4 linked regions of the Homo sapiens genome follow. The protein of the gene in region 4 interacts with the protein of the main gene of each other region in a biochemical or structural test. Each region holds a gene or a part of one and is shown on either strand. Other genes may lie near its edges. The genes, in order: ATM, CDC25A, CDC25C and CHEK2.

The links.
Region 1: of the proteins of CHEK2 (region 4) and ATM, one has a biochemical effect on the other in vitro, tested with the Homo sapiens proteins (6 studies listed by BioGRID, with this or other methods).
Region 2: of the proteins of CHEK2 (region 4) and CDC25A, one has a biochemical effect on the other in vitro, tested with the Homo sapiens proteins (5 studies listed by BioGRID, with this or other methods).
Region 3: of the proteins of CHEK2 (region 4) and CDC25C, one has a biochemical effect on the other in vitro, tested with the Homo sapiens proteins (14 studies listed by BioGRID).

What each region holds. Positions count from the first base shown.
Region 1 is NC_000011.10:108,218,737-108,226,090, reverse strand, and holds the start of ATM (serine-protein kinase ATM), read right to left. Parts: upstream 3,025-7,354; 5' UTR 2,905-3,024; exon of another isoform or gene 1,955-2,904; intron 1,308-1,954; exon of another isoform or gene 517-1,307; intron 1-516. Other genes in the region: protein NPAT, read left to right, coding at 3,555-3,591.
Region 2 is NC_000003.12:48,171,397-48,178,427, forward strand, and holds part of CDC25A (M-phase inducer phosphatase 1), read right to left. Parts: intron 6,593-7,031; coding exon 6,458-6,592; intron 6,047-6,457; coding exon 5,975-6,046; intron 3,062-5,974; coding exon 2,888-3,061; intron 1-2,887. UniProt on the Homo sapiens protein: Tyrosine protein phosphatase which functions as a dosage-dependent inducer of mitotic progression. Directly dephosphorylates CDK1 and stimulates its kinase activity. Also dephosphorylates CDK2 in complex with cyclin-E, in vitro.
Region 3 is NC_000005.10:138,321,784-138,328,814, forward strand, and holds part of CDC25C (M-phase inducer phosphatase 3), read right to left. Parts: intron 6,747-7,031; coding exon 6,701-6,746; intron 4,272-6,700; coding exon 4,238-4,271; intron 4,122-4,237; coding exon 4,032-4,121; intron 1-4,031. UniProt on the Homo sapiens protein: Functions as a dosage-dependent inducer in mitotic control. Tyrosine protein phosphatase required for progression of the cell cycle. When phosphorylated, highly effective in activating G2 cells into prophase.
Region 4 is NC_000022.11:28,738,821-28,746,447, reverse strand, and holds the start of CHEK2 (serine/threonine-protein kinase Chk2), read left to right. Parts: upstream 1-4,627; 5' UTR 4,628-4,679; intron 4,680-7,621; exon of another isoform or gene 7,622-7,627. Other genes in the region: iron-sulfur cluster co-chaperone protein HscB isoform 1 precursor, read right to left, coding at 440-584, 1,744-1,833, 2,470-2,566, 4,117-4,352. UniProt on the Homo sapiens protein: Serine/threonine-protein kinase which is required for checkpoint-mediated cell cycle arrest, activation of DNA repair and apoptosis in response to the presence of DNA double-strand breaks.

The sequences.
Region 1 (7,354 bases), on a different chromosome or scaffold from region 4:
ATACAAAGAAGTTTTTTATTAAACTATGAATGTCTGTAAACAGAGAAAAAATACATATATTTATGTATATTATACCTACAAATAACTATATCTCAAGAAGTAAAAAGGTAGGGAAAGTCCTTCTCCTATCCATCCATCTAAATTCTACTTAATCTTTCAAGATTAAGTATGTTTCTCTGCCCCGATTCAATCTCACAGAATCTCAAAATTGGGAGGAACTAAAAGACCAGGTCCAATCTTCCTATGAAGGAAGGAATGTCTCTTACAAAATGAATGCCCTGTCTTTGAATATTCTCAGTAAGAGCTGACTACCGGGGCTAGGCGTGGTGGCTCATGCCTGTAATCCCAGCACTCTGGGAGGCCGAGGTGGGCGTTCCACGAGGTCAGGAGTTCGAGACCAGCCAGCCTGGCCAACATCGTGAAACCCCGTCTCTACTAAAAATACAAAAATTAACCAGGTGTGGTAGCATGTGCCTGCAATCCTAGCTACTGGGGAGACTGAGGTAGGAGACTCACTTGAACCCAGGAGGCGGAAAGTGCAGTTAGCTGAGATCACGCAATTGCACTCCAGCATGGGCGACAGAGCGAGACTGTCTCAAAACAAAACAAGACAAAAAAAACAAAAAGAGCTGACTACCCATTTTATTAGCAGATGGCTCTGATTCTCTTCTCCTTTTATATTCACTGGTGGTTCTTCTGACTTCCCCCATCCCCCAACACTATTACAACTTCCGCTTTACTCTGCTATAGATTACAGATTGTTATTTGAGTTCTTTTCATTTGATTATATACTTCCTGTGGACAAGTATTATCATTTTTGTTTTTCCATTCCTTATGGTTTTATCTAGGAATCTTCTTACTTCTTCAATCTCAGTTTAAAGCCCTCTTGAGTCAATAAGGAAAATGAAACTGGTAATCTAACCAATGAAAATACCTTAGCAATATCCAAAGAACCATAAGGTTTGGCACCTTTATTCCTAAATATACTAAAGATTTGACACTTCCCGGAAGAGGCAGCCCTAAACTTGACTTTTTTTTCCCCATGGTGTGACTTCCTTGAACTTGTTTTTCTTACCTTCAGCTTAATGATTACTTTGAAGAAAACAAAACAGTTCAGTATTATCTACATAAACAGAAGATGCTCATTCACTGATAGATGCAAACAATATTTACTACTTATAGCTAGACAAATAATGAACTAAACAGATACAAATCCTACCCTCATGAAGTCATATCTGGGCAGCAGGGTGACAATAAACAAGTAAATTGATAAACCAATGCATAATTCCAAATTGTGATGTATGCCTCTGAGGAAACAAAAACACAGTAATAGAAAATAACTGTAGAGAGAATCATTTTAGATAAACTGTCAGGGAACATATATCTCAGAGGAGTTTATAATAAAGCCAAGATCTGAACTAACTGGTGCCAATCAAAAAAAGGGCTAGAGGACCAACACTTCAGGGAAGGAGACTAGCATAGCCAAAGGGTTCTACAATGTTAAAGAACACAGTATGTTGGCGGAACTGAAAGAAGGCAGAGGAACTATTAGGTAGTCAACTAGAGTATGAGTGTCACCATATAAAGATGAACTTCATTTATACATTAATCCAGAATATCTAGGTTCCACTCAAGGTTCAAACGAAAAGATAAGGATTTCCTACTTCCTACGAGCCTCTGAATTGACGAATTCAGTGTTCCTTTTTAGATCTCAACCAAGTTGACCCCTTTGCACAACTTGACAATGACGCTTATATCCCATCTTCCTAGAAATAACTCTGCCCTTGGCATGCCATTCTTTTCTAGTGCTAAGGAGTGTGGCCTCTGTAGTCAGATTGTATTAGTTCAAATCCTGGTTCAGCCACTTACAAACTGTATAATCTAGAGCAAGTTCACTAATCTCTTCAAACCTCAGTTTCTCAATGATAAAAGGAAAAACAATACTAGTACCTACCTCTATGAGTCCCTTTAAGGACCCATATACATGCTTACAGTGCCTGAAACACAGCAAATGTTAGCAATGATCATATTAACTTCCGTTATGACTGTTTCGAAAGTCTCCTGATATCTCTTCTTCCGCTCATACCTCAAAAACAGCTTTGTTTTCTTGGTCTCATCCATTCCTATGACTTCAGCAGCTGAAAACCCACAAAATATATTTCATTCAATGCCAGGCCTCACGCTGGAGCTTCAGGGTCCTTCTACACTTTGTGCCTTTACACGCATTTTTCCTTCCATCTGGAAGGCTTCTACCATCTGCCAAGGTAACACTGCGAGGTCTCACCACAAACTGAATTGATAGTCTCAGGCTGAGTTTGCAGAGAACCAAAGTCACTCCTCTACCATCAGAGTACTCCCCTATCACCACATACATTATCATCCACTGTAGTTGTCTTATCTGTACCTGGTAAATACAGCAGCTAACGCTCACGAGTGCTCACCACAGGTCAAGATTATCTCACTTATCTTCACAAGACAGTAGAGAGCGGCCACACGACTGACAGAATTCCAATTCCAGCCGTATGATTCCAGAGCCCAAGCTCTTAACCGCGAGGCTGAAGTTGAAATATCAATAAATGCTCGCTGACTAAAAGTACTAAATACGAGAGAGAGATCAAAAGATGACTAGTCAAGTCGCGTAGTTAAATCTGAACCCTAAGGTGACACAAAAAGAGGATGCGCAGGAGGCAGGGTTCAATTCAGGGCGTTTAAAAGGAGGAGGTTATTGGCCAAGTCCGCTAAGCACCCGGAGAGAGGCCAGGAAAGATGGAGTGAGGAGAGGGAGGAGTCAAGGGCCACTCTGGAGGGGTGCATGAGATTGGCGGTCTGGGGAGAGGACAGACTGGGTCGCACACGACTGAATTTCCCAGCGCAGAAGCCGCTGCGTTGCCTCCGCGCCCCTACCACTGCACTCGGAAGGTCAAAGTAGTATCAACCGCGGCGGTGGCTGCAGCGCAGATCCCGACTCCTCTCGCCTCCTCCCGCGGCCACGGCTTCTTTTCTCCGTTAGCCACGCAGCTACCTACTCCCGCTTCCGGTTCAAACCCTGCGTGACTGCCCAGCGCCCACTTCTGGAGGAAGAAGCAACGCCAAGCAGCCGCAGAGCACGGTATGCCCATGCGCATCCAGTATCACGCGGTCTCCGCGCTCAAAACACTGCCCCAAAACATTCGGCCCGTCGGAGCAAACGCGCCTGCGCCATGTCCACCAATGGCCAGCGACTTAGCGTTTGCGGCTCGCCCTTCGGCTCGGGCTCCGGGGCTCTCACCCACCCTCTTCGCCCTCGTCGTCCTCCCCGCCCTCCTCATCCCCGCCCCTCCAAGTCTGAGGACGGAAGTGACGACAGTTCCGAAGGCGAACGGAGGCGGGTTTCATTTCGGCGCCTTTCTTTCTCTGGCGGAAGCGATTGGCTGCCGTGAAGCGAAAGAGGCGGGACAAATTGCCGCGAGTTCAGTGCCGCCACTGGAACCAGGAGATGCGGCGCAGGAGCTGTCGCTGTGTTTGCTTTAACCTGAGTCTTGTTCCTTATTGTGGTTCCTGCTGTGGTTTTGATCATGTTGTTACCCTCGGACGTAGCCCGGCTTGTATTGGGTAAGCGCGGACGCGGGATGGAGGGTTATTGGACCCGGCTATGCTGGACAGAAGGACCTTTGAGGCCAAAGGTTTTCCCTTGGTAGGGAAGCTTTGGGGTTTTGCCTCCCAGCTTACGAGTTGAGACTGGCGGTGATTCTTCGTCATTCGGAGGTTCTGGGCAGTTTAAGCCTCTTTGTATGTAGATGCTCCTCTCTTCAGAGGCTGCGTGGCGAGGGGAAGCCCGAGGGGAAGCTCGGGGTGGAACACCTGGGGCGGATTCGGAAGGAAAGTCAGGCCTCCACACTTAATTAGGACCCCTGAAAGAGCATTTGTCTGCATGACGGACGGATTGCGTGTGCTTCAACCTTGGGCGCAATTTCCTTGGTTCAGTGTTGGGACCAAAATAGGGCAAATAGGGAGTTCCCCGGCCCCCCATCTTTGTAGAGAGACCTTCCTGGCGCCCTTCTAATAACCCGCCCTTATAACTACGAATTTGGGAGTAGGGGTGATCTTCCTTCTCCATCCTCCACGCAATACGTCGTCCAGTGTAGAGGTGTGAAATGCCAGTTGCATATTTTAAAACAGCAATTCCTGTTCCTTTGATCAGCGAAAAATTTCAGAGGGTTAATTGCCTTAAATTAGTTGAACGTTTTCTAGCCCTAGTTTTACCTTCATTTGAGGAGGGATTGTTTGTGGGTCACTTGTCTGTCAGGGTGTATTGTCTGTGTGAGAGACGGGTTTTGTTGTTGTTTGTCCCCTGAAAGAATAAAGAGGATTGTACTACAGGGGACGAGAGCCAGGTAAAGCTCAAAACCCGAGCCAGTAATTTACGGACGTCGTATGCGACGTCCCTAAAAGTAAATGGCAAGCATCTGTGATGAAACCTCCCATAGTATTCACAGCCATTACTACTATTATTTTATTGTTCGGAAAACCCATTTGTCTTGTGCCTCTTTTAAATGCCCAGCGCTGTCCACAAAAATGTTATTTGCGCAGGGCTCTTGATAAGCACATTTTGCAGGAAACGTTAAACGGAAATGGTTCCACCATCCATTTTTGAAGAAACTTAATGACAAGTTTAATGTTTTGTTAATGTCTGATTAATCTTTTGCTTAAGAATTCTGAGTTTTGGCAGTTTGGTAATCTAGTTGAGTTTCGGTAACTATAGTCTTAAACATGGTTTCTCAGCCTCAGTACTGTTAACATTTTGGGCCTCATAATTCTTTATTGTGGGGAGCTATCCTGTGCTCAAACATTGTAGGATGTTTAGCAGCATTCCTGGCTTCTATTCACTAGATTACAGTAGGACACCCGTTCCCCACCCTACCCTTACCCAGTTGTGATCAGTGAAAATGTCTCTAGATATTGCTAGTATGTCCCCTGGAGGGCAGAATCACCCCTAGTTAAGAAAGCCCTAAGAAAGCAGTATCATTTTCTAATTGAAATAATTCACATCGATGTGTGAGTATTCTTTCTCCACAAACCAGCTACTCTGCTGACTTCCTGCTTTTCATTTAATGGACAAAAAACGCCAGCCATGGTTTTCTTATCTTAAAAATCTTTGTCATTCACATTCCATTTTCACTGCCACCAATCCCGCAATGTGCCTGCCATTACTTCTCTTTTGGACTTCTGTCATGGCTTCCCAGACAGTTGTCCTCGCAATTCATTTTATTTACTGTTGTTACAAATCTCCCTGAAGCTTTCACACTATACCTTTTAGTCTGAAAGTTGAGATAATTCTATTCTTACTAAAAATTTCAGATGGGCAGGAGTATACAATACAAAAAAGCCTCCCCATGCCTAATGCTCTTACTTTTGTCGTTTATCATTTTACATCTTAAATAGATACATATCGTGTATATCTTTCTCATATGAGGTTTATTATTTACTCATGATTCTTTTCCTATCAGTACCCCCTCGCCATCTTCAGCTCCTCTTGTTATTGGTCCCTTCATAATGTTTTTTTTCTAGCAAATCTTTGGGTGCCTAGTATGTTCCAAACACTGTGCCAATTGCTGAACATAGAGAAGTTAAGTTTTCTCCCCTTAGTGTTCAGATAATTAGGTTTTTTTTAAATTCTTAAACATACACACAAAAAAACACTTTTCTGGACCCCACTAGACATTAGACACCCATTAAACAGAACATTCTGTCTTATGTTCTGTGTCACCCTTTCACAAGTCAAATTTATTCAAAGAACAATGAATTCCACTTAGTTGCTGTTCTTCACCTACCTTTTATCCTTCAGGATACTGCACTCTGACTTTTGCATCTCACTACTCCACTTAAGTAGCCCTTATTGCCTTGCTGGGATTTTACAAAATGTTGTGTGGGCCAGAATACATCAAAGTGTTTGTTGCCTCTGGGCCATCAGTTCAGTTTTTATCTATTTATTCAAGGTGCTCTGTGGAACTGATCCTACCTACCTCTCCAACTTGATCTCAACTTCCTAACATCTGTTTTATGCTGCAGACATGCCAAACGAATTGAAGTTTCTTTGAAAATTCTTGTATGTATTCTACTTCTCTTTGTCTTCCTAGTACACTTCTATTCAAGGTTCAGGTCATGCCTGATCTCTGAAACTTCATTCAGCAAGTACAGTCAGTACTTCTTAAATGTTGCCATAGCATTGTACTTCTGTTACAACCTTATCATGTCTCATTGTAGATGTGTGTTTACTTTTTTTTGATAAAATATACTAACAAAATTCAACACTTAAAAATGTATAGTTCTTAAAGCCCAAAACAATGAGTTTGTTGTTGTTGTTGTTGTTGTTGTTGTTTGTTTTTAATGTACAGATCAGTAGTGTTAACTATATTGACATTTTTCTGCAACCATCACTACCATCAGTTTCTGGAACTTTTTCATCTTCCCAATTTGAAACTTACTTGGTTTTTTGTTTTATTAGTAGTCTTAGTCATGGATGAATGGACAAGCTTCAAGAGTTCTGGGAGTCCCCAAAACTATCATCTGTGAAGGTTTTCTTGAATAGATTTGTTACCTTCTGTATGAGACAGCATGCAGTAAAAAAAGTAGAAACCATTCTGAGTATTTAACATGGAAAGATTTAATGAGAGAATTCGTTTACACTGGTGAGAGAAAAGCTAAGACGCCCAGCAGCTTACAACTAAGGCATCTCAGTGGTTAGCAACAGTAGGAAGCCACTATGCTAATGAGAAGGATAAGGAGAGAGGAAGCAATCAAGAGGCTGGTTTGACTGCGGAACGTGGAAGACTTGTCTGATGAGGGAGTGGTAGTCTTAGAGGAGACTCTACTGAGGCAGAAAGGGAATGGGGGAAAAATATGGCTGCTTCCTCCTGCCCTCCAGCCTCCCACCAGTGCTTCCTATTTACTGAGCCCAGCCAGTAGCAGGCCGACAGAAGAGCTTGGGGAACATTGCCTATATAGAGTCAAGCTTTATGTCATACAGTAGAGAGCGACAGAAGGGTCAAGAACGTGTTTGAGGTCAAACAGGACCAAAACTGACACACCCCTAACAGGTCAAGAGCTGCTGGTTCTATTCACCTTTATATCACCAAAACATAGATATTTAATAAAACATTTGCAAAAGTATGGCTCTGATTATGACACTCCTTTGTTTATTTAATAATATATGTACTCATTGCTGTCTAAAACTTTTCATGATCCTTACCCATTTTGTCTTTTCTGTTGTATCTCCAACTGTTACCCTTCATAAACCTTGTGCTGCATCCAAACTGGACATGTTCCCCAAATATGATTGCATATATACTTTCTGTCAGCTTCTTTGGGATTCCCA
Region 2 (7,031 bases), on a different chromosome or scaffold from region 4:
TTGAGATGAAATCTCACTCTATCACCCAGGCTGGAGTGCAGTGGCGTGATCTCTGCTCACTGCAACCTCCATTTCCCGGGTTCAAGCGATTCTCCTGCCTCAGCCTCCTGAGCAGCTGGGATTACAGGCTCATACCACCACACCCAGCTATTTTTTGTATTTTCAGTAGAGACAGGGTTTCACCATATTGGCCAGGCTGGTATGGAACTCCTGACCTCGTGATCCACCCGCCTTGTCCTCCCAAAGTGCTGGGATTACAGGAGTGAACCACAGCACTCAGCCAGAATATTATTAAATATTGATAGATATTTTCTGACATGTATACAATGTAAAGTTTCACAAATGTTCTTGCCCTTATAACCCAGAATTTCATTTTTAATTAGAAATAAAAGGAAAATCAGGGGAAGGGAAATTCTAAATGTCCAGAAGGTGATTTATTCAATTATTTCTAGTATACTTGTAAGTCAAAACACTATCGGCCAGGTGCACTGGCCTGTGCCTGTAGTCCCAGATACTTTGGAGGCTGAGGTGGGAGGACTGCTTGAGCCCAGGAATTCAAGGCCAGCCTGGGCAACACAGTAAGACCTCTTTTCTACAAAAAATAAAAAAAAATTTTTTTTAAATTAACTGGGCATGGTGGTGCATGCCTGTAGTCCCAGCTGCTAGGGGGGCTGAGGCGGGAGGAGTGCTTGAGCCCATGGAGGCTGTACTGAGCTGTGATCGTGCTAGTGCACTCCAGCCTGAGTGACAGCGCTAGACCCTGTGCCCCCCACAAACAAAAAGAACAAAAACCAAAACCAAACAACTCTCCCAAAACAAAAATACTATGCAATTATTAAAATATTCTTTTAGAACAATACTTTAAAAACATTCATAAAGCATTAAAAACAAAAGCAGATACGATAAGGCAGTAGGCCTAAATGCTAAATGTTTTCCTAGCTGTCATCTCTCTAACCTTTTAAGACTGTGATGAGATTTACTTAAACCTTTTCATGCCACAGAAAACACAGGTAGTTCACCATTTTATAATGCTTAATACCAAACCTCAATATAAGGACAGTATAATGAAGGAAAAACATACAAATAAACCAGTGTTTTGTGTGTCTAGCCACAGAATAAATAGAAAAAATAACACAAAGGACCATAGGACTTAGGCCCAGACAACCATGACACTAGCTCACCCATGCCAGGTGCTGTGTCTAACACCTATGATCCTGGCACTTTGGGAGGCCAAGGCGGGAGGATTGCCCTGAGCCCAGGAGTTTGAGACCAGCCTGCGCAACATGGCGAAAGCCTGTCTCTACAAAAAATACAAAAATTAGCTGGGTTTGGTGGCACACACCTATAGTCCCAGCTGCTTGAGAGCCTGAGGTGGGAGGACTGCTTGAGCCTGGGAGGTGGAGAGTGCAGTGAGCGGAGATCATGCCACTGCACTCCAGCCTGGGTGACAGAGAGACCCTGTCTCAGAAACAGGAAACAACAAAACAGCCTATACAACTATGAGCAATGCAATGAATTAACTTGAAGAATTAGACAGACAGGGCTGGGCGCAGTGGCTCACGCCTGTAATTCCAGCACTTTAGGAGGCTGAGGCGGGCGGATCACAAGGTCAGGAGATGGAGACCATCCTAGCTAACACTGTGAAACCCCGTCTCTACTAAAAATACAAAAAATTAGCCAGGCGTGGTGGCGGGGTCCTGTAGTCCCAGCTACTGGGAGGCTGAAGCAGGAGAATGGCATGAACCCGGGAGGCAGAGCTTGCAGTGAGCTGAGATCGCGCCACTGCACTCCAGCCTGGGCGACAGAGCGTCTCAAAAAAAAAAAAAAAAAAGACAGACCTTTATAAAAATCAAGTATTTAATAGGCCATGATAGGTCTGGATTAAAAGGAAATAAAATATCTACAACAAATGATAATAAAAACATTTCAGGTCAAAAGTTATGAGACAAATCTAAAGCAGTGGGAAATTCATAGATTCAAATAGATTTATCCAGAAATAAGAAAATTAAAAACGAATGAGTTAACCATTCAACTCATGAAGCTGGAGACAGCAACACAACAAGCCCCAAGAAAAGCCTGCTCTCCCTAGGCAAAGGATGGCCTATTGAGGCAGAAGACTTTTAGACAATAATCATTCTACTAGTCAACACAGAAACAATTATGGCCAACAGCAAGCGGGGGCCTCCACCTTTGCCCAGCTGTCATACAGTGCCCCAGTCACCACCCCACGGGGATGGAATGAACTTCCACTCCCTCCCAGCAATAATGAGACAAGTCCCCACCCAAGGTGTCAATGGAGTTTGTGCTGGGGAACCCGGACTTCCACCCATGCCTTTCTTGCAGTATCAGAGGAAGCCTGCTAAAACGTAAAATTTACATAGACCGGAGACTCACAAATATACAGGAGACAATGGAAGAATCACCGGTCATACCAAGAACCAGAAAAATCCCAACTTGAACAGGAAAAGACAATCAACAGATGCCAACAACACTATGGATGGATGTTGGATTTGTCTTACAAAGATTTTAAAGCAGCCATCTTAAAAATGCTTCAACAGGCAATTATGAACATACTCAAAGCAAATGAAAAACCAACATGAAAACAGCCAAGTATCAGCCAGGTGTGGTGGCTCACACTTGTAATCCCAGTGCTTTGGGAGGCCAAGGCAGGAGGATCACTTGAGGCTAGGAGTTCAGGACCAGCGTGGGCAACATCGCTAGATCCCATCTCTATTAAAAGAAACACACACACACCCACACACACACACAACCCCACAAAACCCCAGCAAATCTTAGCAAAGAAAATAAATGAACCACTAAGTAGAAATTTTTAGAACTGAAAAATACAGTATCTGTGCTAGAGCAAAAAGGAACCTAGGAAACTAACCTCATGGGCCTTCTCTGGATTAGTTGACTCTTTGGGGCTGGCCCCAGACATGCTCTTCCTCCTCTTTGTACTTCCAGGTGGAGACTCCTCTTGAGATCGTTCTGGTCTCTTCAACACTGACCGAGTGCTGGAGCTACACAGGGAAGGGGAGTCAAACAGCTTGCATCGGTTGTCCTTACAGGAAAAAAAACAGACAGACCCATCTTTCATTAAAACCTGTTCACTTGAATGGTAAGACAAATAAACCGAAGGTTTCCTGGGATGATCTAAGATCAATTCTAAATTAGCCAACAGACACTGCCGATTCATCTAGTCCTAGCAACTCTCACAGGGCCTGGCACATAGTAGGCACTGAGCACTTAGTGCTCAATGAATATATACTCAGCTGACATTATATAGAGATGAGCAAAACGTCCTTTGCCCTCACAAAAACTGTCTACATAATCCTGCGTCAAGAGAAGTGTGACCTTCCAGTCAGGAACACATTTTTGGCTTGCCTATCTTCCCCTCCATTTTATTACTTGCACCTTGCTTAATTAAGCAGGTCAACGGGTTTAAATACCCCACTTAAATCCAGAAAAGATGCACAGTAGCCAGGTTATAATAAAAATGGGGGCATCTTTGGTTAAGGTATAGTTAAGATGGTAAATTTGGAGGGAGTGGGGATGGGCAGAGTAGCAAATGCCTTTCAAAATTGTGTTCAAAGTCTTTTTTTCTACTTGGTCTTTTAAAGACTAATTTCCCAGGCTGGGCGCGGTGGCTCACGCCTGTAATCCCAACACTGTGGGATCACTTGAGGTCACAAGTTCAATAACAGCCTGGCCAACATGAAGAAACCCCATCTCTATTAAAAATACAAAAAAATTAGCCAGGTGTGGTGGTGCGTGCCTTTAATCCCAGCTACCCAGGAGGCTGAGGCACGAGAATCACTTGAAACCAGGAGGTGGTGGTTGCAGTGAGCTAAGATTTGCACCACTGCACTCCAGCCTGGGTGACAGAGCAAGACTCTGTCTCAATAAATAAATAAATAAATAAAGACAAATTTTCCAGAGCCCAAGGGAAGCCAATCTGACCAGTGGTAGCAAGAGTCAGCTCTCTAAACGCATCTCAGCCTATTCTCGACTCCATGTGTCTTGGCCTGGCTTTTCCTTCTGCACAGAATGTCCTTTCACATCTCAGTAAACCATTCATTTTCAAGTTGATGCTAACATTTCAATGTCACTTCTTTGAAATCTTCCTGATAGTCCCCAGTAGAATGGATCACTCCCACATCTGCTCCCATAGAGACCGGGGATTTTCTTCCTCTTTTGTGTGAAGTTTATTTTCCATTACAGCTCCCAGCAATGGTTAGTTTGTAATAACCATTTGTGGAAGACATTTCCCCACTATTAAGAGCTTACAAGCCCATGCTTATGACTCTAAAATCAAATCTATAAAACTAACAGCCACTTCCAAAGTGTTCTCACATTTTATGTAATTTTATGCCTATCAAAATGACCTGGTAAATTTACTCATAACATTTGTACTGCGTTAACATATTTTCTCAAAAGCTATGCACATGAATGTACTATAATCCATAAGTGATCTCAAAACTGTAGCTTGGCTGGGCACGGTGGCTCATGCCTGTAATCCCAGCACTTTGGGAGGCAGGTGGATGGATCACCTGAGGTCAAGAGTTCGAGACCAGCCTGGCCAACATAGTGAAACCTCGTCTCTACTAAAAATACCAAAAAAATTAGCCGGGAGTGGTGGCGTAAGCCTGTAGTCCCAGCTACTCAGAAGGCTGAGCCAGAAGAAGCACTTGAACCCAGGAGGCAGAGGTTGCAGCAAGTCAAGACTACACCACTGCACTGCACCCCAGCCTGGGCAACAGAGGGAGACTCTGTCTCAAAAACAAAACAAAACAAACAAACAAAAAAACTGTAGCTCATTTGTTCTGTAATTATAGTTCAGGTTATTGAGAATTAAAAAATATGAACTTATCAATTTAGATGTGTACCTAAGGGTGTATATCTCTGAACATACAGGTGTATATATCTGTATAGGCACATTCTTGCTTCTAACTTTGAAAGTATCCCTATGATGAAAACACGAATCTATAGCATGTGTATGTGTGTGTATATATATGTGATTTTGAATATATATACACACATACACTATAGATTCTGTATCTACATATACTATGCTTTCTGTTTGAAAGTATCCCTGATGGAAACACAAATCTATACTGTGTATGTGTGTGTGTGAGTATATATATATATATATATATATATATAAAATATATATTATATATAATTTTTAAAATCGAAAATATCTACCTGAAAATACCCAGCCTCAGGTAGGTATTTTCAATGAAAAACAAAACAAAACAAAACAAACAAACAAAACAGCAACAAAAAACATCCAGCCAGGCACAGTGGCTCATGCCTGTAATCCCAGCACTTTGGGAGGTCGAGGTGGGCAGATCACCTGAGGTCAGGAGATCGAGACTAGCCTGGCCAACATAATGTAACCCCGTCTCTACTGAAAATACAAAGATTAGCTGGGTGTGGTGGCAGGCACCTGTAATCCCAGCTACTCGGGAGGCTGAGGCAGGAGAATCACTTGAACCTGGGAGGCAGAGGTTGCAGTGAGCCAAGATTGTGCCACTGCACTCTAGAATGGGCAACAAGAGCGAGACTCCGTCTCAAAAAAAAAAACAAAAAACACAGAAACAAAAAAAATCCTGTGAGTTACTGTTGCTTGTCTAATTTTATGCTAGGTTCTGTGGAATATAAATGAGAATAACCTAAAAAAAGTAAAGTATTCAGGCTAAAGGCTTCAGATAGGCTTTTTTCAAACTGACTAGATGGTAAAAGCTAGGAATGACCATGGTCCCTCCTAACCCACACTCCTTATACATCAGGAGACATGCAGAGAGATATCATGACTAAAGGTCATAATTTGTAGGTAGCCAAAGTGAGGCCTAAAACCCAGATCCCCAAATCCTATCATGCATTTCAATCTTTGGCTATACTCAACTAAGGACTACTCTGTCCAGTGCCCCAATCACGCAGGGCTTCCTCCAGACACACTAGAACAACTCACAAGGTTTGTAGTTCTCATGACGAGAGGAGCTGTCCAGAGGCTTGCCATGCACGAGGGGGTCTCCTCCTCATTCTAAAGAAACAGAAAAACTGATTTTAAAAAGAGCCTGTAGAGACTAACATTTGTTTAAGTGCTTTAGGTGTGTTTCTCCCTGAACAATACCAGATAGGCCTGGATAGGAAGTATCCTTAATGTACCATCCTATACCGTTCTGATTTCATGTTTCTTGCATATAGATTGTTAGTTAGCTCCTTCAGGGTAAGAAGGATCATGTGTCTTCTTTTGATGCCCCCATCCCCCAATCCAAAGGATTTAATAAGGCTGGTAGCCCTATTATTAAATGAATTATCACCAAATGAACAAAAATATCAGCTAAGCAAGCCCCGGGGAACTGCTGTTGCTGTTCTTTTTCACATCACATGCCTTCTCCAGAGGTAATTAATTAGTAGAACAAATAGGAACACACACACACACACACGGTACCTTCAGATTCTCTCCATCGAGAAGGTCCACGAAGCCATCATCCTCATCAGACAAAGTGGCTGTCACAGGTGACTGGGGTGTAAAAAGAGGAATGAAATTCCCTGGTTCACTGCTATCTCTTTCATTTGAGGAAAGCTGTAAGACAAAATTCATGGATTAATAATGAGAGCTCTGATCCACTTTCATTTCCTTGAATGGGTCACTAGTTTTTATGATGAAAACATACTATGTTATACTTGTTATACAAAGCAAAATTTTAGCCATTACTGATTATATGAAAATGTATCCCAAGATTATAAATGATTTGATGACCACACACAGCCCTGAGTAGTCAGTAGCCTTTACAGAGAACTCTTGCCAGAAGCAATTCACCTTATAATGGGTACTAGAGATAGCCTCTTGTGAAGAACAAGGTTTCTTTTATTAGAAGGTTGCATCAGTGAACACCGATCAGCATTGAGGACTGTGACAGTATGAGAATCTGCTGAAATGAGTTAGGGCAAGCAGATGCAAATCTCTATAAAGACCATAAAATGGCCTAGAGAATGCACTTATATATAACTCCAGTTCTGAC
Region 3 (7,031 bases), on a different chromosome or scaffold from region 4:
CATGATCAACTTTATCTTCATAGGATAGAATATGTTAAAATAGCTTTCCCTCAGGGTTGAGATTAGAAATAATAATCCAAATCTCTGGAGTCCATGGTCTATGAAAGGCAAGTCAATGCCTGGGTAAGTTAAGACCCCAGTATTATAAGGGCACAAAAGACACTAGAGAAATTACGCATGGATAATAATCACATGAAATCACTACTAATTATTATTATTATTTTATTTTATTTTTTGATACAGAGACATGCTTTGTCGCCCAGGCTGGAGTGCAGTGGCGCGATCTTGGCTCACTGCAAGCTCCGCCTCCCGGGTTCACGCCATTCTCCTACTTCAGCCTCCGGAGTAGCTGGGACTACAGGCGCCCGCCACCACGACTGGCTAATTTTTTGTACTTTTAGTAGAGACAGGGTTTCACCATGTTAGCCAGGATGGTCTCGATCTCCTGACCTTGTGATCCGCCTGCCTCGGCCTCCCAAAGTGATGGGATTACAGGCGTGAGCCACAGCACCCGGCCTATAATTATTATTATTTGAGACAGAGTCTCGCTCTGTCGCCCAGGCTGGAGTGCAGTGGTGCAGTCTCGGCTTACTGAAACCTCTGCCTCCTGGGTTCAACTGATTCTCCTGCCTCAGCGTCTTGGGTAGCTGGGATTACAGATGCCTGCCACCACGCCCGGCTAATTTTTTTTTTTTTTTTTTTTTTTTTTTGAGATGGAGTCTCGCTCTGTCGCCCAGACTGGAGTACAGTGGCACGATCTCGGCTCACTGCAAGCTCCGCCTCCCGGGTTCACGCCATTCTCCTGCCTCAGCCTCCAGAGTAGCTGGGACTACAGGCACCCGCCACCATGCCCGGCTAATTTTTTCTATTTTTAGTAGAGACGGGGTTTCACCATGTTAGCCAGAATGGTCTCGATCTCCTGACCTCGTGATCCGCCCACCTCGGCCTCCCAAAGTGCTGGAATTACAGGCGTGAGCCACCGCGCCCGGCCCTGGCTAATTTTCATATTTTTTTTTCAGTAGAGATGGGGTTTCACCATGTTGCCCAGGCTAGTCTGGAACTCCTGACCTCAAGTGATCAGCCTGCCTCAGCCTCCCAAAGTGCTGGGATTACAGGTGTGAGCCACTGCACCCAGCCACTACTAATTATTTTTATTTTTATTTTTTTTTCCTTTTTTTTTTGAGACAGTCTCACTTTGTCACCTGTCCATTCACTGCACTGGAGTGCAGTGGTGTAATCTCAGCTCATTGCAACCTCTGCCTCCCAGGTTCAAGCCATTCTTGTTTCTCAGCCAGGTGCCACCACGCCTGGCTAATTTTTGTATTTTTAGTAGAGACAGGGTTTTGCCATGTTGGCCAAGCTGGTCTCAAATCCTGGCCTCAGGTGATCCACCTGCCTCAGCCTCCCAAAGCGGTGGGATTACAGGCATGAGCCACCATGCCTGGCCTGCTAATTATTTTTAACATAAAATAAACTATTTTACCATGTATGTATGTGTGTGTGTATTATTTATTTGAGACTGAGTCTCCATCTCAGCTGACTGCAGCCCCAGACTCCTGTGCTCAAGCAATCCTCCCAATTATAACTCACTGGAGCCTCAGGCTCTTGGGCCGAGGCGATCCTCTTGCCTTGGCCTCCAGAGTACCTGAGACTACAGGCATGCACCACCAAGTCCCAGCCATTTCTTTTTTTTGGTTGGGGGGTGGGGTAGAGATGTGGTCTTGCTGTGTTCCCCAGCTAGGGAACTCAAAGTCCTGGACTCAAGCAATCCTCTCACCTCAGCCTCCCAGAGTGCTGGGATTACAGGGATGAGCCACAACATCTGGCCTAATTAGCATTTTCCCTCAAACTAGACTGCTCAGCAGAAAGTAATTTTTTAAAAAATTCCATGAGAAGTCCAGGTATGGTGGCTCATGCCTGTAATCCCAGCACTTTGGGAGGCCGAGGTGGGTGGATCACAAGGTCAGGAGTTCAAATCAGCCTGGCCAATATGGTGAAACCCCGTCTCTACTAAAAATACAAAAATTAGCTGGGCGTGGTGCCACACGCCTGTAGTCCCAGCTGCTCAGGAGGCTGAGGCAAGAGAATCTCTTGAACCCGGGAGGCAGAGGTTGCAGTGAGCTGAGATTGTCCCACTGCACTCCAGCCTGGACAACAGAGCAAGATTCCATCTCAAAAAAAAAAAAAAAACAAATTCCATGAGAAGACTGGGCAGGGTGGCTCACACCTGTAATCCTAGCATTTTGGGAGGCTGAGGCAAGTGGATTGCCTGAGCTCAGAAGTTCAAGACCAGCCTGGGCAAGATGGTGAAACCCCATCTCTACTAAAATACAAAAAATTAGCTGGGCGTGGCAGCATGCGCCTGTAGTTCCAGCTACTCAGGAGGCTGAGACAGGAGAATTGCTTGAACCAGGGAGGCAGCGGTTGCAGTGAGCTGAGACTGCGCCACTGCACTCCAGCCTGGGTGACAGAGTGAGACTCTGTCTCAAAATAAATAAATAAATAAATAAGTAAATTCTATGAGATTTGGATTGCTAATGAAAATGTAAATTCTTGTAACTTTTTTAGAAATGAATCGGAGAAAGTATCAAAACCTTAAGGCTTGAGCCCAGGAGTTCAAGATTTGCCTAGGCAACATAGTGAGACCCTTATTTCTAGGGAGAGGAAAAAAAAAAACTTTAAAAATATTGATGCTGTCGGGCATGGTGGCTCACGGCTGTAATCCCAGCACTTTGGGGGGCAGAGGAGGGCAGACTACGAGGTCAGGAGATCAAGACCATCCTGGTCAACATGGTGAAACCCTGTCTCTACTAAAAATACAAAAATTAGCTGGGTGTGGTGGCACGCACCTGTAATCCCAGCTACGTGGGAGGCTGAGGCAGGAAAATCGCTTGAACCCAGGAGGTAGAGGTTGCAGTGAGCCGAGATTGCACCACTGCACTCCACCCTGGGGAACAAGAGCAAAACTCTGTCTCACCAAAAAAAAAGAAAAAAAAGTGATTATAGGCCAGGCAGTGGCTCACACCTGTAATCTCAGCCCTTTGAGAGGCCGAGGCAGGTGGATCACTTGAGGTCAGGAGTTTGAGACCAGCTTGGCCAATAAGACAAAACCCCGTCTCTACTAAAAACACAAAAATTAGCTGGGCCGTGGTGGCACGTGCCTACAGTCTCAGCTATTTGGCAGGCTGAGGAACAAGAATCACTTGAACCCGGGAGGCAGAGGTTGTAGTGAGCTGAGATTGCACCACTGCACTCCAGCCTGGGCGATGGAGCGAGACTCAGTTTCAAAAATAAATGAATAAAAAGTGATTATAAATGGAGATTAGAAGGACAGTATTAAATCAAGAAAAAACTGATAAGAACAGCCGAAAACATGAGTTTATCTTAAGTCAATGTAAGAAAAGAAGAGCAGCTATCTTTTATGGTAATGATTTGGGGAAAGGGATGGGAGGCAGGGAAGAAAAAACGATGTCTAGAAAAGGGGCTTAGATGAGGGATTAGATACAGAACTATCTTAGTGATGAGGTGGCTCCGGAGAGGCTAGATTTAACTTGGAACGACGGATGGCCTAAGGTTTAGATAAAAAGTACCATGGCCTCCTCGGAATAAGGGCTTAAAAGCTAGACTAAGGGGGAAATAAGAAATTAATCTACACTTGCATGTAAAGTGGTAAAAAAAAATCCATGAACAAGTTATGCAAGTTATCCCTACCTGTTAAAACAAACAAACAAACAAACAAAAAACTCCTAAATCCCTTACACTACAGTAAGGGTAATTTTTGTCCTCAAAATGATCAACTGAACATGAGAAATAATGATGACCTACTGTGGAAGATTTGGAGCTGGGTGTCTGTCCTAGGGCCAAACTTTAATAAGAAAAAACAAAAACAAAGAAATTTTCTCCCCTATAGTAATACAGTTTCCTTGTCTAGCATACGAGGTATAAACAGTTCTATGTCTCATTATGATACCAAGTTTCTTCACTCAAAAAATAAAACTGCCAATATATCTAGGTTTCCATTAAACACTCACATTTTCTTTATTTGCAGATGAACTACACATTGCATCTCTCTTTCTATGGCCACGGTCCAAACCATTCGGAGTGCTACAAAGAAGCTGTGCCTAAAAAAGAGAGTTTGCTGAGAACGTCCAGCATCCTCAAGCCACAGGTGCAATGGAAACCCTCTGCCTCCCACCTGAAAAGCAAAACAAAACCCAAAAAAAGAGAGGCTACTCACTGGGCTACATTTCATTAGGTGCTGGTCATGATTCCTGCAGATTAAAACAAACTGCCTGTCAGGTTAGTCCCAAATACTGTTTGATTATTCTTCAGTGGATTGGTGCATCCCAACATTTTTCTATTTCATTCTAGGAGCCCTATTCCTAGTTGATATGTCTCTTCCAACAACAATACATAGGGTATTCTCTGTGGTAAATATCAAGACTCAAGTGACATCCTGGGGATAAGACCCTCATTTTGCCTGCATAACCATATAACATGTTCCAAAGATGAACGAGTTTTATACAATTTACAATTTACTAATTTTCCAGCACAGTGTATTGGGGCTAATTTTTTTTTTTTGAGACGGAATCTGGCTCTGTCACTCAGGCTGGAGTGGCACGACCTCGGCTCACAGCAAGCTCTGCCTCCCGGTTTCACGCCATTCTCCTGCCTCAGCCTCCTGAGTAGCTGGGACTACAGGCGCCTGCAACCACATTCAGCTAATTTTTTGTATTTTTAGTAGAGATGGGGTTTCACCGTGTTAGCCAGGACGGTCTTGATCTCCTGACCTCGTGATCCGCCCGCCTCAGCCTCCCAAACTTCTGGGATTACAGATGTGAGCCACCGCACCCGGCCGGGGCTAACTTTTTAAAAAAATTTAATTTCTGGCGGGGCGCTGTGGCCCACGCCTGTAATCCCAGCACTTTGGGAGTTCGAGGCAGGCGGATCACCTGAGGTTGGGAGTTCGCAACCAGCCTGACCAACACAGAGAAACCCGTCTCTACTAAAAATACAAAATTAGCCAGGCATGGTGGCGCATGCCTGTAATCCCAGCTACTTGGGAGCCTGAGGCAGGAGAATCGCTTGAACCCGGGAGGGAGAGGTTGTGGTGAGCCGAGATCGCGCCATTGCACTTAAGCCTAGGCAACAAGAGCAAAACTCCGTCTCAAAAAAAAAAAAAAAAAAAAAAGGCTGGGCGCGGGGGCTCACGCTTGTAATTCCAGCACTTTGGGAGGCCAAGGCGGGCGGATCACGAGGTCAAGAGATAGAGACCGTCCTGGCCAACATGGTGAAACCCTGTCTCTACTAAAAATACAAAAATTAGCTGGGCGTCGTGGCATGTGCCTGTAGTCCCAGCCTCTCAGGAGTCCGAGGCAGGAGAATCACTTGAACCCGGGAGGCGGAGGTTGTAGTGAGCCAAAATCGCACCACTGCACTCCATCCTGGCAACAGAGCGAGACTCCATCTCAAAAAAAAAAAAAAATTAATTTCTATCCTCCCTCCATGGATTTCATTATCTATCTGGGTTAGAGCATTTAAAGCAATTCAAGCTGGGCCCAGTGACTCACATCTGTAATCCCAGGACTTTGGGAGGCCAAGGGGTGGGTGGGGGTGGGGCGCTGATCACTTGAGGTCAGGAGTTCAAGACCAGCCTGGCCAACATGGTGAAGCCTCCATTTTTGTATTACTAAAATACAAAAATTAGCCGGGCGTGGTGGTGGACGCCTGTAATCCCAGCTACTCGGGAGGCTGAGGCAGGAGAATCGCTTGAACCCAGGGAGGCAGAGGTTGCAGTAAGTCAAGATGGCACCACTGCACTCCATCCTTGGCAACAGAGCCAGACTCCATCTCAAAAATAAAAATAAATACATAAGTAAAATGCTTGGTATGTGCTAGATACACAGTTTATTTACTCCTTACAATAGCTACTTTATGAGAAATGCTATTATTGTCTCCACGTTACAAATAAAAAAAATTAAGGTCCAATGAAGTTAAAAAAAACTTGTCAGAGTCACAACTGGTGAATGAAGTAGTAAGCCAGGAATCCACACACTGATTCCAGAGCTTATACTCTGTACTTTCTTTTTTTTTTTTTTTCTGAGACGGAGTCTCGCTCTGTCGCCCAGGCTGGAGGGCAGTGGCGCAGTCTTGGCTCACTGCAACCTCCGCCTCCTGGGCTCAAGTAATTCTCCTACCTCAACCTCCGAAGTAGCTGCGATTACAGGCATGTGCCACCACATCCAGCTAATTTTTGTATTTTTAGTAGAGACGGGGTTTCACCATGTTGGGCAGGCTGGTCTTGAACTGCTGACCTCAACTGATCCGCCTGCCTTGGCCTCCCAAAGTGCTGGGATTACAGATGTAAGCCACCGTGTCCGGCCACTCTGTACTTTCAATTACTAAGATACAGCACCTTTCACATACAAATAAAAGCCTATACATAAGTGTAGTATACCATTTTCCTTCATTTCCTTATAGATACTTCTGATTATGATGGTTAAAATGAATAGCCTTCATTTTCACAACACTATTTAGATGTGGAAAACTTAGAAACTGTTCAAGGTAAGGAACTAGGCCTCAAAGCCCACTTATACCCAGTATGAAAGGTTTTGTACTCTGCAGAGTCTGCACAGGATAAAATCTCTATGACCAGTGCTAAAAGGCTTTTGTGTGGGGTTCATTTAACAACAGAACTTACATCCCAGCTAAATGCACTTCCTGAAGTCCTGAAGAATCCAGGTGACCTGCAATCAAATATAAAGAATCAGTAAAAGGAGTTATTCTTGTCCATGCATCCTGTTTTTCCTTCAGATTTTCTTCATTACCAGTAAGCCGTATTAATTTCAAGGACTGAGCTTTTGAATACAAAGCCTCTCGATTGGTACCCATTTCATGGTACAAGGTACAATTTCACAGAAACGTAAGAATTTATATGTGTCACTAAAAGAAATCAAGTGTTGGGAAACACTACACTATGCTACCTATGGAGTTTTTTTTTTTCTTATGGGTAGAAAAGAAAGGTTATCACT
Region 4 (7,627 bases):
TCAGCTCCCACAATTATGTGAGCTAATTCCTTAAAATAAATAACCTTTTTTTTTTTTTTTTTTTTTTGAGATGGAGTCTCGCTCTGTCGCCCAGGCTGGAGTGCAGTGGCCTGATCTCCGCTTACTGCAATCTCTGCCTCTCGGGTTCACGCCATTCTCCTGCCTCAGCCTCCCGAGTAGCTGGGACTACAGGCACCCGCCACCACGCCCGGCTAATTTTTGTATTTTCAGTAGAGACAGGGTTTTACCATGTTGGCCAGGCTGATCTTGAACTCCTGACCTCAGGTGATCCACTTGCCTTGGCCTCCCAAAGTGCTGGGATTATAGGCGTGAGCCACTGCACCCGGGCCATTATATACTCTACGTTCATTTTTCACTAATCCTTGGACAAGTGTTCATAACAGCAATGAAATACATTCAGTGCTATTTTATCTTTCACCTTTGACAATGGATTCAATCTCTTTCATGGCAGCTTCACTTTCAGCTTCTGCGAGTTTTTCATTGATTTCCATTATTTCTATGAGGAATTGCCTGTCCATTTCATAATCTGTCCTTTCAGGAATCTCTATTCCATGGAGCTTTAGCTATTGGGGTAGAAAGCAAGAAAAATAAGTTGAAGAAGCTATGGGCAGAGTAATGTAAATCCTACTCATCCATTAGGAAATAATACCACTAATAGAGAAAACTGCAACTGTCCCGATAATGAAAGACTAAGGGGTATCAAAAGCTTGGACTGAAACAGAAATGCTGGAATGGGATTTCCACTCATGCTACCCAAAACTATGTGACCTTGGTGTGATCTTGGGGTAGTCATTCCTCCACTCAGAGGTTGAACTAGATGTTTGTAAAGATTCTATTCAATTATAAAATTTTCTAGATTGTAAGATACTTTTTTTTTTTTGAGATGAAGTCTCACTCTGTCGCCCAGGCTGGAGTGCAGTGGTGTGATCTCAGCTCACTGCAACCTCTGCCTCCTGGGGAAGCAATTCTCTGCCTCAGCCTCCCGAGTAGCTGGGATTACAGGCACCCGCCACCATGCCCGGCTAATTTTTTTGTATTTTTGGTAGAGGCGGGGTTTCACCATCTTGACCAGGCTGGTCTTGAACTCCTGACCTCGTGATCCACCCGCCTCGGCCTCCCAAAGTGCTGGGATTACAGGCGTGAGCCACCATGCCTGGCCTCTTAAGATACTCTGGAGAGGAAAAAAAAACAAAACAGAAAATGACTCTTAACTAAAAGCTACCATCATCAAATCCTTGAAATTCACAGAAAAAAGCTAGAAAATCACAATTTAAAAAATGCAGTTGAGGCAAGTAATATTCACAGAGAAAATTATACTTGTGCTCTGAGGCTAAATACTATTGGGTCCCTGGACTTTTTTTTTTTTTTTTTGAGAGGGTGCAGTAGTACAATCACAGCTCACTGCAGCCTTGACCTCTCAGGCTCAAGTGATCCTCCTGCTTCAGCTTCCAGAGTAGCTGGGACTACAGGTGTATGCCAACATGCCCAGCTAATTTTTGTATTTTTTGTAGAAATGGGGTGTCATCATGTTGCCCAGGATGGTCTTGAACTCCTGGGCTGAAGTGATCTGACCACCTCAGCCTCTGAAAGTTCTGGGATTACAGGTGTGAGCCACCATGCCTGACCTCAAGCACTCTTCTGCTGAATAAAGGGGACGTGGCTGTCCTACGCCATAATGGGCATCAGGACGTCATACACAGAAGTGTTGGGAAATCACCTTACAAGGTACAGTCCTCTGCTCAGGGGGGCCAGGAGGGTCTTATAGGCATCATTCACCAGGGTCGAATGCTTCTCTGAGAAGTCCTTTTCAGTCTGTTAGTGGAGATGAAGATAGTACTATTACCATCCAAATCACAAAGTTTTTTTGTTTTTGTTTTTGTTTTGACGTTGAGTCATCCAGGCTGGAGTGTGCAGTGGCGCGAACTCAGCTCACTGCAACCTCCACCTCCCACGTTCAAGTGATCCTCCTGCCTTAGCCTCCCAAGAAGCTGGGACTACAAGCATGTGTCACTGCACTGGGCTAATTTTTATATTTTTAGTAGAGACAGGGTTTCACCCTGTTGGCCAGGCTGGTCTTGAACTCCTGACTTCAAGTGATCTGCCTGCCTCGGCCTCCCAAAGTGTTGGGATTACAGGCGTGAGTCACTGTGCCAGGCCCACAAAGTTTTATAATATTCTAATGGGCAGGCACCTAAGGAAGTGGTTAAGTAGAGCTGGTGTGGGATGAGGTGTCTTTATATTCAGCTGATAGGTTTTAAGTTATCTGGGAAGTCAGACAAAAGCTGTGAGTGAATGGCAGCTCTGGGTCTGACAGGCTGGGGTCAGACTGCCATGGGGCAGACACAGCTGATTTTCCAGCTCAGTCCCTGATAATCACATAACCACAAGGCTACTGCCACCCAGTGTGCACACATATTTGGGGATTATTGGGGTTGGCCAATAAGCTACCTGAGACCTCTGGCTGAAGAAATCTGGGTGGACAAGACGCTGCAGTTGCTGGTACCTGTGCTGGAGCTTCGCTGTATCAACTCTGAAGGAACGGTTGCTGGAAGGAAATTGGGAGATTAAATTTATACAACAAATATTTAAAGGTTTATCTACCATGAGCCTGGTTCTTGCTCTTATGGGGAAGATGCAATAACATATAAGCAGTTAATTTCAAAAAGTGGTAAGTCCTATGAAGGGACACAGAACAGAGTCAGAGAGTGTAGCAGATGTAGTGGACAAAGAGATGACACTCAGCTGAAACCTGAATGATGATGAGTAATCAAAGATCAGAGGAAAGAGACGTCCAGGTAGAATTGCAAGAGCAAGGACCTCGAGGTGGGAGCAAGATGGGGATGCCTGAGGAACTTAAAGATCAGCGTTACTGTAGCCCCTCATACATGTTCAGTGACTGGTGGGGAAGATCCCATAGTTAAGGAAAAGGGACATTCCTAAATTACACAGACAAAGATTCTTTGCCTGGCCAAACTTTAGTCAGATTTCTGAACCTTCTCCTAGGCCCAGATGTATGCTTTCTTGTAAAATACAGTTTTGGCAAATAATCTTGCCAAGTCAGTTTAGCTAGAATCCTCGATCCTCATATTTTTGATCATCCTAGATCTCTGATCAGATTCTTCATCCTCTACTATCCCCCAGGTGGTGTCTAAGCAGCCTGGCCTGTCTTCAGCAAGAATCCCGTTAGGTCGGCTTAGCCAGAATCCCGTTTACTCTGCTCCTTGGCTACAAATTTCCTTCTGCCCATGCCCTTTTTGGAGTTGAGACCAATCTCTCTCCCCAACTGCAAGACCCTATTGCAGTGGCCCCTCTACAAGATGGTCTTGAAGAAAGTCTTTCTGGTGCTTGAACAAGTGTGACTGAATCATGTTTTCTTTAATACCACCCTAACTTTTCCACGGCCCAGGTCCCTTCATCCCTGTCTCTCCCGGTTTATTTTAATTCAGCCCCTTTCACATTCTACTCCCAGAGTCTGTCCTATTTCCTTACCAGTTCAGCTCTATCCACACTGCCCCGTCTCTCCAAGAACCTCAGTCTCAGGGGGAAAAACCATTTATTGGACCCTCTCCCTCCAATTCTCACTTTTCCCTCAGGCCTCGCCCACAATATTAAGCTTTTCATGCTTTACTCCCTAATCTCGGATCACACTTCTGCAGTCCTTTCTTAAATACATCAACCCAACTTTAAACCTTACTCACCCTATTCATTCAAGTCTTCCAGTCTCCCAGGCCCTGCCCCTCAAGTACCCTTTCCTCAAGTTCCGCCCCTCGACTTCTCCTTCCCTTTCCCGTAGGTACCGCCCCTCAAATCTCCCTCCCCTCTAGCCTCGGCCCCCCTATTTCCTCTAACTTCAGCGCCCGCCCCTCCAGTCCCGTTCGTCTCCCTTCTCCACACCTCAACGTTGCTTCCCTCAGTCCCCGCCTCTCAATTTCCTCCTGAGAAATCAAGACACTTCTCTCACGCCTGCTCTCTAGACCTCCGCCCCCCCATCAGTCCCGCCTTCTCTTCCGCCAGCCAGATCCGTCCTCCCCTCTCGCAGGCCAGACCTCGACGTGTCTCTCGCCCGGGCCCGTTTCCCGAAACCGTCGCTCGTACCAGTCCATAAGGCTGAAGTAGTCTCGAGTGGGGTCAGGTGCCTGCAGCGCTCGGCACTGTGGGCAGAAGAACCTGTCCTCCCGCCCGGGGCCCCATGGGCCGCCGCAGTTCCAACAGCGGGGATAATTGCTTCCCGCCTGCGACGCAGCATCGCAGCTTAGCGGTCTCCTTCTGGGAACCCCTGTCGGCCAAAACCCCCACACCCGGAGCAAAGCCCCGGCTCTCCCCCGCCACATCTGGCCGGCGGCCTATCTAGCCGTGGTCACTCGTGGGGAAAAGCAAAGAGAGCGTCTAACCAGACTAATGTTGCTGATTGGCTGGGGAGTCGAGGGGGCGGGATCACCCGAGGGGAACCCGGGTTCTAAGTTCCGCTCTCCCTTCTAAACTACAACTCCCAGGAGGCATTGAGGCGGCGCCTGACGGCCACATCTGCTGCTCCTCATTGGTCCGGCGGCAGGGGAGGGGGTTTTGATTGGCTGAGGGTGGAGTTTGTATCTGCAGGTTTAGCGCCACTCTGCTGGCTGAGGCTGCGGAGAGTGTGCGGCTCCAGGTGGGCTCACGCGGTGAGTCATATGGGGAACTTCTGTTGGGTGTTTGGTGGTTCGAATCCCATCTTAAGCGTTTTGTGCGAACGGAGTCTCCTGAGCTTCGCTTTGTCTGTAGTTTTGAGCTGAAGGGGGAGTGTGTGGGCGACTCTCTTCCTTTTCAGTAGATCATCCTCGAGGTGAAGTTCACTTCCCGTATTACTTGCAAGCTGAAACAGGCCTGAACATACAGGATAAGAAGAACAGCGTTGTATTCTTCAATATCAGAGCGAAGTGACTTCGTAAAAATTCTATAGATGTTAGAAATCGTTGCCATTCTTTAGGTTCAATCTATAAAATACTTATAGAGAAGCCAGTCTTAGCTACTGGGCGCTGCAGGGACTGGAAACGCACTGAGCTGTGTAGGAGGATGTTCTGCGTGTCCCTAAATAAGTCCCTAAGTAAATGTATGGGATAGGGTGGCCAGAAGTGGGTAGGAGGGCATCAGTCCTCCTTCGGACTTAGGTTTTCTGCTTGAAAAAAATATTGTGTTTCACTTGAAAGACCTCTGGAATTTTTAAAAAAAATTATTTATTTTTGATATAAAGTATACATATATGATTACCATCTGTACCTTTTTTTTTTTTTTTTTTTTTTTTGAGACGGAGTCTCTCTCTGTTGCCAGGCTGGAGTGCAGTGGCGCGATCTGGGCTCACTGCAACTTCTGCCTCCTGGGTTCAAGCGATTCTCCTGCCTCAGCCTCCTAAGTATCTGGGATTATAGGTACCCGCCACCATGCCCGGCTAGTATTTTTAGTAGAGACGAGGTTTCACCATGTTGGCCAGGCTGATCCCGAACTCCTGACCTCAGGTGATCCACCTGCCTTGGCCTCCCAAAGTGCTGGGATTACAGGTGTGAGCCACCGCGCCCGGCCTATTTTCAATTTTTTGAGGAATCACAATACTCTTCTCTATAGTGGCTATACTAATTTGCATTCCCACCAGTGGTGTATGTGAACAGTGCAAGGTCAGACATAACCAGGTCCATGCACATTTGTGTCTTTCCACAAGATCAGACTTATTGATGTTTTATTTTAATTGTAAAAGCCACGAGCTATATGGAGTTCCCAAGGAAGCAATTTTCCGTAGTACTCCCTGTTTACTTGGTGGTCAGAGCCATGGGCACACAGGCTCAAGCCATTCCACAAGTCAGTCAGTATTGTAAACCGTACACAATAGTATATTTATTTAATATGTAAATGTTATAGATTAAAAATCTTACATTAAAGTAACATTTAACATTCGGAGAAAAGGGGATAGGGAAAGTGGTTATCAAACCAGTCCAAGGAGAGCAATGTGGACAAAGAGAGTGTTTTGGCTTTATCTGGGGTGTCAGTGTCTTGTAAGGAAGAGTTTTTGATGCGGGCAGAGCCTTTGATGGCGGATACTGGGTGTTAATCATGAGTGACAGCAAGATGGTGTCTGTTAGGACAGCCATTTTGACCTAATAAAGTCCTGCTCTTATGACCAAAGAATTTTCTTGTGAGGACTAATAACAAAAGCGTGTACATATTTATATCCTTATCTGGTTTAGTACAGTGTTTTTTTTGAGACAGAGTCTCGCTTTGTCACCAGGCTGGAGTGCAGTGGTGCGATCTCGGCTCACTGCAACCTCCGACTCCCTGGTTCAAGCGATTCGCCTGCCTCAGCCTCCCGAGTAGCTGGGACTACAGGCACGCGCCACCATGCCCAGCTAAGTTTCGTATTTTTAGTAGAGTTGGGGTTTCACCATGTCGACCAGGATGGTCTCCATCTCCTGACCTTGTGATCCGCCCGCCTTGGCCTCCCAAAGTGCTGAGATTACAGGCGTGAGCCACTGTACATGGCCAGTACAGTCTTTATTAATTAGACAAACATCTGGTCCCTGTTGGCATAATGCCTTTTAAAATATAAGATAGAGCCTTTTTCTAAGATAAAATTACTTATGTCAAGAGCACTCTATACAGTTCCCCTTTCTGCACATTCTTTCCAGCATCTGTTTTGCCTATCTTTTATACAAACCATTTTAACTTGGGTGAGATGGTATCTCATTGTGGGTTTTTTTGTTTGTTTGTTTGTTTGAGACAGAGTCTTACTCTGTCGCCCAGGCTGGAATGCAGTGGCGCGATTTTGGCTCACTGCCTCCTCTGCCTCCCGGGTTCAAGAGATTCTCCTGCCTCAGCCTCCCAAGTAGCTGGGATTATAGACGCCTGCCACCATGCCCAGCTAATTTTCATATTTTTAGTGGAGACAGGTTTCACCATGTTGGCCAGGCTGGTCTCAAACTCCTGACCCCAAGTGATCTGCCCGCCTCCGCCTCCCAAAGTGCTGGGATTACAGGCATGAGCCACTGCACCCGGGCCTCACTGTAGTTTTGATTTATATTTCTCCAGTGATCAGTGATGTTGAGCATTTTTTTAATATACCTGTTGGCCATTTGTATGTCTTCTTTCGAGAAATGTCTTTTCGGATCTTTTGCCCATTTCTTTTTTTTGAGACAGAATCTCACTCTGTCACCTAGCCTCGAGTGCAGTGGTGCGATCTCGGCTCACTGCAACCTCCGTCTCCGTCTCCTGAGTTCAAGTGATTCTCGTGTCTCAGCCTACCAAGTAGCTGGGATTACAGGCACGGGCCACCATGCCCAGCTAATTTTTTGTATTTTTAGTAGAGATGTGGTTTTGCCATGTTGACCAGGCTGGTCTTGAACTCCTGACCTCAGATGATTCACCCACCTTGGCCTCCCAAAGTGCTGGGATTACAGATGTGAGGCACCGTGCCTGGCTTGCCCATTTCTTAAATTGGATTATTTGTCTTTCTGCAGTTGAGTTTCATCTCCTTATATATTCTGGTTATTCATCCCTTGTCAGATGGCTAGTTTGGAAATGTTTTTTCCCATTCTGTGGGTTGTCTCTTCACTTTGTTGATTGTTTCCTTGGCTGTGCAGAAGCT